Regions from separate parts of the Homo sapiens genome. Here regions 1 and 2 are each linked to region 3. The links come from fine-mapping of genetic effects on gene expression. A gene starts in region 3. Each other region holds a variant in brackets. All regions are shown on one strand. Distances are between the middles of the regions.

What was found. PIP is the estimated chance that this variant, and not a neighbour inherited with it, causes the effect. A credible set is the group of variants that fine-mapping cannot tell apart.
Region 1: its variant is the best candidate, but not a certain one, in a credible set for the expression of KRT10-AS1 in monocytes after interferon gamma (Fairfax 2014, PIP 0.60).
Region 2: its variant is the best candidate, but not a certain one, in a credible set for the expression of KRT10-AS1 in whole blood (TOPMed, PIP 0.54).

The regions. Positions count from the first base shown.
Region 1 is chr17:40,869,128-40,871,981 of GRCh38, forward strand. All of the region lies in intron 1 of LOC105371777 (a long non-coding RNA gene), which reads left to right. Among named protein-coding and RNA genes, the nearest start is that of KRT12, 3.3 kb to the left of the region's middle. The variant C/T (reference allele first, on the strand shown) is at 1,206.
Region 2 is chr17:40,849,824-40,852,677 of GRCh38, forward strand. It overlaps LOC105371777 (a long non-coding RNA gene), which reads left to right and starts at 975. Exons shown (of 3, transcript XR_934754.3): 1 at 975-1,037. The variant C/CT (reference allele first, on the strand shown) is at 1,476.
Region 3 is chr17:40,817,676-40,820,239 of GRCh38, forward strand. It overlaps KRT10-AS1 (KRT10 antisense RNA 1), which reads left to right and starts at 1,470. Exons shown (of 3, transcript NR_160888.1): 1 at 1,470-1,533. It overlaps KRT10 (keratin 10), which reads right to left. Exons shown (of 8, transcript NM_000421.5): 5 at 2,374-2,499; 6 at 1,842-2,059; 7 at 1,112-1,486; 8 at 442-807. The coding sequence ends at 801. RefSeq lists an enhancer at 1,980-2,564.

The sequences.
Region 1 (2,854 bases), 52 kb after region 3:
TTGGATTCTGCGTTTTATTTTATTCTAAGGAAAAGTTTTAAAAATATCACAAGTATTCTAGATTTCTAAAATAAAATTGAATTCTTATTTGATTTAATAATACATACCTTTCATAAAAAGGAAGATTTTTATTTTTATTTATTTACCACTACTGGATTTTTTTTAAAAAATTTCAACTTTAATTTTAGATTCAGGAGGTACATGTGCAGGTTTGTTACGTGTGTATATTTCATGATGCTGAGGTTTGGGGTACGACTCATCTCATCACCCAGGTAGTAAGCATAGTACCCAATAGTTGTTTAACCTTTGCTCCCCACAGTAATTCCCAGTGTCTATTGTTGGCATTCTATATGTCCATGAGTGCCCAATGTTTAATTCCCAAAAAGGAGGCTTTCTATACATTTTAAAGTGGAGATTGAATCTATCTGGTAAAGATTAATTTCTCAGCAAAATTATTGGATACCTGTGAGATCATTGAGATGTTACTTACTTAATACAAACAATCAACCATAAAAATTAGCAAATATGTGGCTATTGTTTAAGGTTTTTCCATAAGCATATGCAATACTTTTTGTTTCTCTTACTAAAACAATAACCTGATTTTTTTGGACACTTCAATAGCAGAGATAATATGTGAAGTAAGCCTGTAACTGTTACACAACTTGAATTATGTCAAAATGATGTGGTCTTTTTGAAAATTAAATCAAGAATTTCAACCAAGCCAACATGAAAGTATTCAAGTACTAGGTCTGCTGTTACCTCCATTCTTCAATGTCTAGTCCATTTGCCCAGTGTCTTGGACAAAGTCAGCATTCAATATATGCTTATTGATTTCTCTCTTGATAAATCAAGCTGCTGGGCCATTAATGTGTGTTATGTATGAGGAAATTTTTCCAAAATCAAAAAAGAGTGTATCAATATAAAGGCAAGCTACAAAGTATAATAATTTAAGTATTCGTGGATTCACAATGTAGACACATTCAGATGTTACTCTCATTCTAATGTACACATGCATGCACACACACACACCCAGAAACATGCACTCAGATGTCTTTGCTTGGTGCCAGTGTGCAGGTGCTCCCTGCAGAGGGATCTTCTGCAGCCCCTGCTGCTCCACCTTCCCTGGGAGCCCTTTCTCCTGAGAATGCTTCTTTCGCTGGCCTTTATCTCATTGGAGTTAGTCTCAATGGTTAGCACTTGTTTTG[C/T]CTTGTAGAGTACAGACTGACTCCTGAGGAATTCCAGACCTGTAGCCTAGATTCCCCGTAGTTTACTGCTGCCTCCTGTCCACCTGCATATCCAGATATTATCTCCCTGATTACAGCCTCCCCGAAGCTGAGGTTCTTCCATTGTGAAGAGTCCTGAGCCAGAACTAGCAGTGCCCACTGGGGATTAGGGGACAGATGCCGAGGGGTCACACCTGAAGCCCATGGCAAACCTCCATAAGGAATACCTGGGATCAATTCTGGCAAATGGAAGGACTGTTTTGACTTTTTATTAAAAAAAAAAAAAAAAGCCACTTTCCCAGGGACACAAATGATGAACCCGTGGTGAAATCCAATTACAACTTCCTTTTATATTATTACATAAGGGACAAATGTGAAGGGACATATTTCTCCCCAACCTAAACTCGTCACAAAGAGCAAGCAAGTGGGATTTCTAAATAAAGGGGGTTTAAGCAAGAGATTTGCAGAAATCACACATTTGCTATAGATGTGGAAAGAATGTAGCAACCTAAGGCAGTCTCAGCTTGAGAGAAGCCATGATCCATTTGTTTAATTTCTTGAGAGAATGAAAATCTGGTCAGTGGAAATGCCAGTGATTTTAGCCCCATATGGAGGTTTTTACCAAGGATTCCTTAAATCTATATTATAAGCATTTTGACTGAGCTGGTCTTGTTTGAATTATCAGTTATTATGTACTTACTACTTTTTGGACACTGGGCCAGCTGAATTACAGACATTATTTTTTAACCTTCACGGCAAGCTCTTAAAGTGGTACTGGTTTTATTTGTTTGTTTGTTTGAAACAAGGTCTTGCTTGGTTGCCCTCACTCCGGCTGGAGTGCAGTGGTGTGATCATAGCTCTCTGAAACCTTGAACTCCTGAGCTTAAGCAATCCTCCTGCCTCAGCCTCCCAAGTAGCTAGGACTACAGGTGGGCACCACAACACTGGCTATTTTTTTTTTTTTAATTTTTTTGTAGAGATGGAGTCTTGTTATATCGCGTAAGCTGGTCTTGAACTTTAGGCCTCAAGTGATCCTTCTGCCTTGGCCTCCCAAAGCACTGGGATTACGGGCATGAGCCACCTCAAGGCGCCCAGCTTCAGGTGGTACTTTTATCCTATTTTACAGATGAGCAATCTGAGAGTCCAGATGTTAAGTGATTTATTTACGCCCATGCAGCTGGGAGGAGGCAGAGATAGGATTCGGGCCTGCAGTGCCTTCTATAGATACCACAACCTTGCTGCTGGCGGTGACAATAAAAAGGGCAGAGGATACTCTGACATCCCCTAGCTATGACACCTGACACTAGGCTTCTGCCCTGCACATCTAACAGGAGGTGCTCTTTTTTTTTTCTTTTCTTTTAAGCTTTCTCCTTGAATTTCTCAGTGTATGGGCTGAGACCTAGAGAATGACTTTTCATGGCTTATAAGCAACAACATGACACATGAAATTCTGTAAACACACAGGCAAATGCGGTTTTCATTTTAGCTTTGACCTGTAACTACATCTCCAGAGATCTTATAAAGCACAAGTTAAACTTGCACTCCCCACACAAGAACTTGATGTTATGGTTGTTAACTATTATTCACTCCCAAGTGTCCCCCAAGACAGAGAGATTCCATTTTACTGCCAT
Region 2 (2,854 bases), 32 kb after region 3:
GGCTCTGCTCAGATGCCTTTCTGCTGTAAAGAGTGGTCCTCATATCCCAGCCCTTTATATTACCTCCCTTTTCCAAACTTCTGTGGCAGGTCACTTTATACCTGGCGAGGCAAGGTTATTTGCATACCTGACTAGTCCGCTCCCATTTGCTTCCATAGTGACCAGTAAATATTAGTTTGATTGAGAGAAAAGTGTATTTTACTTATTTTTAATTTTTATTCCTAACTGCTAGACCACCAAAGAGAGAGAGCACAATGTTTTTTAGATAGAACACCTCGTTATTAAGGGAGAACAAGTTCTATTTTGATCTAGATTGGCAGGAGTATTACATTTTCAGACTGAATATTTTCATGGAAAGCCAGTGTTCCATCAGCCATTTTAAGATAACTCAGTTTTGTATCTATGGTTAGGCGATTGCCTACATACAAAGCACACTTTAATGACGAATTAGAGGATTCCAAGCTTGCCTTTATAAGTGAATATCTACAGATTTTTTTTTCTTATAAATACTACATGGAAACCAAGTTACTCTATGTTTTGAAAGCAACTTCTAGTACTCTTTAGATGTATGGGAAAAAGTCCTCAGGTTAATTTCCTTAAGAAAAAGCGTCATGAATTAAAAGACTGCTTGTTGAAACTGAAGATCACTTTCTACTGAGTCACCAGATATTGAGCAATATGATTTATATCAATATGCCTTGTGAAATTGTCAAGTTAAAGATTGTACATATTAGATAAGAAAATTTTGTGTCCCTATAGAGTGACAAGTATCTTGAGGGTTTTCTGGAAATATTGAATTCAACAAATATCTCAGTAAAATGCAAACAACTTCTTGATGGATTTTTTAGTCTCAAACAGCCAGCCTAATTCCTTTATTAAGATTTAAGGAGAAGGAAGTAAGTGGAATTCAATTTCATATGACGCAAGCATATTTTAAATAGAGTAACCAAAACAAATAGATTCAAATGGAATCTATGCAAACCATCCTCTTTGCTTCCTTTGTGATGGACACTCCTTAGCTTCTGCGCCTTAATAAGGTAGGGTTTGTTCATTCAGTCTTTCCAAAGATAAGTGTTGGAAAATTTAGAGTTAATAAATCAGTGGATAAAAATTCAATGACTATTTCAAGAAAATAATAGAAGAAATATATCGCCACCATTCAATGTTTGTGCAACCAGTGTTTATTGAGTGCTTTTAATGGTACCTAGAGAGTAATACAGGTGGTCAAGCACAGTGGCTTATACCTGTAATCCAAGAACTTTGGGAGGCTGAGGTGGACAGATTGCTTGAGCCCAGGAGAGTAATACAGGCATTATTCCAGCTTTTACTGAGTGAATATTCTAGCATTTGTACGTAATTCTGTGCACAGGTATTCAACAAGTATTGATTGTCTCCTATGCAGTAGGGTATATGTGCTGTTTTATGCACTGTGCTAGATGCCAGGGCTACAGTGGAGGGCAAAACAGACATGGCCG[C/CT]TGCCCTTAGAGAGAATGCAGTGGTAGAGCCAGACATTATTTCAATATTCATACAAATAAATGTATAATTGCAAATTGCGCTAAGAGCTGTGAAGGATAACTACAGTATAGTATGAGAAGGTAGAATAGGAGAACCTGACTTGGTTAATGAGGGGCATTTGAGTTAGGACCTAACTGGTGACTAGGATTGTTAACTAGGCCAAAATGGGGGTGGAGGCTCATTCTAGGTAAAGAGGGAAAGTTTGTGAGAAGCTGCCAGAGTGGGAAGGAGCATGGCGTTAGAATTTACTTGACTGTAGTATTGCTGTCACTCAGTATATGTATATCAAAACCTCATATGCTGTATATCTTAAATATATACAAAAATAAAGTAAACAAGACCAGTAGGTTTGGAGAAGATAGAGGGGGAGAGAGGGCACACGATTTGAAAGAGGGTAGAGGGGGCCAGGCCAGGCCATACCTTGCTGGGTTTTGGTCTTTATTCCAAGGACAATAGGAAGCCTTTGAAGGCCTTTAAGCAATGGAGTGACTGGATCAGCTTTTTCAAAATGATCCCCCCAGCTCTGGTGGAAAGAGTGGAAGAGAGGTGGGTACAGGTGGAAGCTGTGTGGTCAGCCAGGAGAGAGACATAAATAGTGGCTTGGATGAGGAGGCAAAATACCAGATATGGCCAGGATATGTATAGGTATCTGTTGAATGAATGAATAAATAAATCTAGGGTCAGGAGACTTGGAGCTTGACCTAGTTAAAAAGCTACAATTGAAAGATTTTTAGATCAACATTGATAGAGGAATAATTTTTCTTTGATTGTTTAGTTAAAGTTCAATTTAACTGAAAGGTAAAAGCCAGTTAAAATAATGCTTTATTATTTGATTTTTTTTTCTGACAAAATGAAACATAATTTAAATGATCCATAGTGATCCTAAATAGATTTTTAGTTCAGAGATAAATTATCATAAGGACATAAGATGTTTGGATATATGTGTATAGCAAGTGTTTTATGATACATATTCTACATGTTGGGAATGTAGTTTTATATGATTAAGTTTTCAGAGTGCCAATGCTTTGGAAAGTGCAGCTAAAAAGTCTCCCTGTGGACAAATTGGCAAATAATTGTGTAACCTGCTACTTCAGCTTTGTGTCTTTGGTGTTATAATATTATATTGTCCTTTAGCTCCTCAGAAATGATCTCCTCTTTAATGCAACTGTTACCTGTGTACCCTGGAGGTGACAGATAATCATGATAATGATGACTAAAACTTTCATCAGGTTCTCCTCCCTACTGAGACCTTCCTTTCCCTTGAGCAGTTCTTGTCTTCCCACTGGCCAGCGTTCAGTTCTATCTCCTTCAGCTCTGCAAGCTGTAAAAACACCTTCCA
Region 3 (2,564 bases):
TTACTTGGGTGGTGTCAGAAGATATGTCAAGCTATATAACAATTGGGAAGAAGTAATATAGTAACTGGAAGAAAGTAAGAAAAGGCAAAGGTGAGAAGTCAGGTAATTAGAAAATATAAAATTTCCAATTATTATTATTTTGGGGGTTTTATTTGAGATATTCCAGAATTTCCAGGATTGAAATAATTTAAAGCCAGAGAGCTGGGAGCCTTCCACATATTGTGTATCTTAAAGAGTAATATTGGGGATTTACAGACTTTACTCAGTGAATTTACTGACGGTGGTCTGAACATACATGATTAAAAAACTTAGAAAAGGCATGACAATAGTTCTGTCTTCCGAATTTCTGGATACATCAACCTTCAACTGCTATGGGTTACTAATCTTTAATTTTAAAGAGTATTATGTACTTAAGTAAAGATAAATTCTGACAAATTGGGATAGTTTGCATCAGTAAGAAAGTTTATTGAAATTCATTAGTAAATGAGAACAGAAAGTTGTTTTTCTTTCCATTAAAGAACACTTTCTGGTAAAGTGAAAAGAAGAAATACAGAAACCACAAAACACCTTGTAGACACCTTATTTTCAAGGTCTATTTCCATAGACCATCAAGACAGAAGTGTTTTCTTGGAGACTTTGTTTTCCATGCATCTGTAAATAATGGTCTGTGTGAAGGGAGACTCTTTCCTCTTGATGCAGTTTAATAGTAGTGTTTCTTGGTTTCTGATTCAACCATAGATGAAAGAACTCTACCGTCGGGCGCCACCTCTTCAATAATTGTCTTGATTACTCTGGTTTTGTTAGTATCTGTGTGAATGATGGAAAAAAAATTTTAAACAGTCTGTAGGGATCCTTAGTAATTAACAAGCAAATATTGTAAAAAGAAGGAAATTTCAACTTTACATTGTTAAGCCCAAAAAAATGCTTAAGGTATGACATTTTGATCATGCCATTTTTCACGGCTGGTGTTAAGAGTAGTTTGTGAACAAATGCAAACGGAACCGTCTCTAAGATTTTTAATTTTTTAAAACAACTCTAGAGCTTAAAGCGCAAAAAAACCATCACAGGAAGTTAAAACTAATTCTGATTACCCCAGCTAGTTTCTGCTGACCTTGGTCCCTTAGATGAAGACTCGCCCACGGACCCGGAAGAGGAGGACTTGTGGCCTCCGCTGGAGCTGCCGCCGCCGTATCCGCCGCCGGAGCTGCTGCCGCCGCCGGAGCTGCCGCCCCCGTAGCCGCCGCCGCCGCCGCCGGAACTGCCACCACCGTAGCCGCCGCTGGAACTGCCGCCGTGGCCGCCGCTGGAGCTTCCGCCCCCGTAGCCGCCGCCGGAGCTTCCGCCGCCGGAGCTTCCGCCTCCGTAGCCGCCGCCGGAACTGCCGCCGTGGCCGCCGCCGTGGCCGCCGCCGGAGCTTCCGCCGCCGGAGCTTCCGCCGCCGTAGCCGCCGCCGAAACTTCCGCCGCCGCGTCCGCCGCCTCCGGAACTAAACGGGGTGAGGTCACATTCGGTTATCTCTAACGTTGGAAAACGGTGGGTAGCTTTCCAGTTGCCGTTAATTTAGAAAATAAGCAAAACGTGTTGAAAAAATAAAACCCTGCCAGGTATATATTTTAAAACCCATCCTTTGAAAACAATGTTAAGTTCACAGAACTCTTAAGAATCATTTTGGGCCAAATTCATGAGAAAGTGAGATTGCGGTTGCGTACTCCTTTTTCTGTACTCTACCCTCTCTCCTCCCTTCCTCTCATTCTCTGGCATCTTCTTGGGGTTTAGATAAGCCTTGCTATCTGGAATATTGAATAAAAGAAACTGGGATAACTTTTCATTTTAAAATTTACCTTCCCTCTCCTTCTAGCAGGCTGCGGTAGGTTTGAATTTCATTCTCCAGTCGGATCTTAATATCCAGGAGTTGTTGGTATTCAGTATTCTGGCACTCGGTTTCAGCTCGAATCTGTTGCAACTGTTCTTCCAGAGCGGATATCTGGGCCTGAATCTGTGAGAGCTGCACACAGTAGCGACCTTCTGTTTCTGCCAAGGAGGCTTCCAGGGATTGTTTCTGAAACGGATTTTTTTGTGGCTTAGTGACTTCCTTGTTCAGTTGAGTATGGTGACGCTTATTTGATTATTTAGTAAGGCATTATATAGAAGAATAAGAAAATGAACAGAATTTGTTGTATGTTTAATGGCACCATTTCAGTTTCAGCACTTTTAGATCAACACTAGTAGTACTTTTCCTCCATTAACATGAGCTTCACTTTGTTTTCTCTTTCTTACCTCCAACTCTGCATTTTTTTGTTGCATTGCATATTCTTAGGTGAGCATGAAACTTTGTATGATAAAGTTGAAGTCATTTCATGAGAGTTAACATACCAAGGCCAGTTGGGACTGTAGTTCTATCTCCAGAGCTTGTACATTACGTCTCAATTCAGTAATCTCAGATTTATAGCTGGATATCTGTTCAATGTTATTATCAATTTCTGTAGTCAGTTCCTTGCTCTAGAGTATTAAAAACAAGGAAAAGGGTGAGGAAATTCTGAAATGATAAAACCTCCATGAGTTTC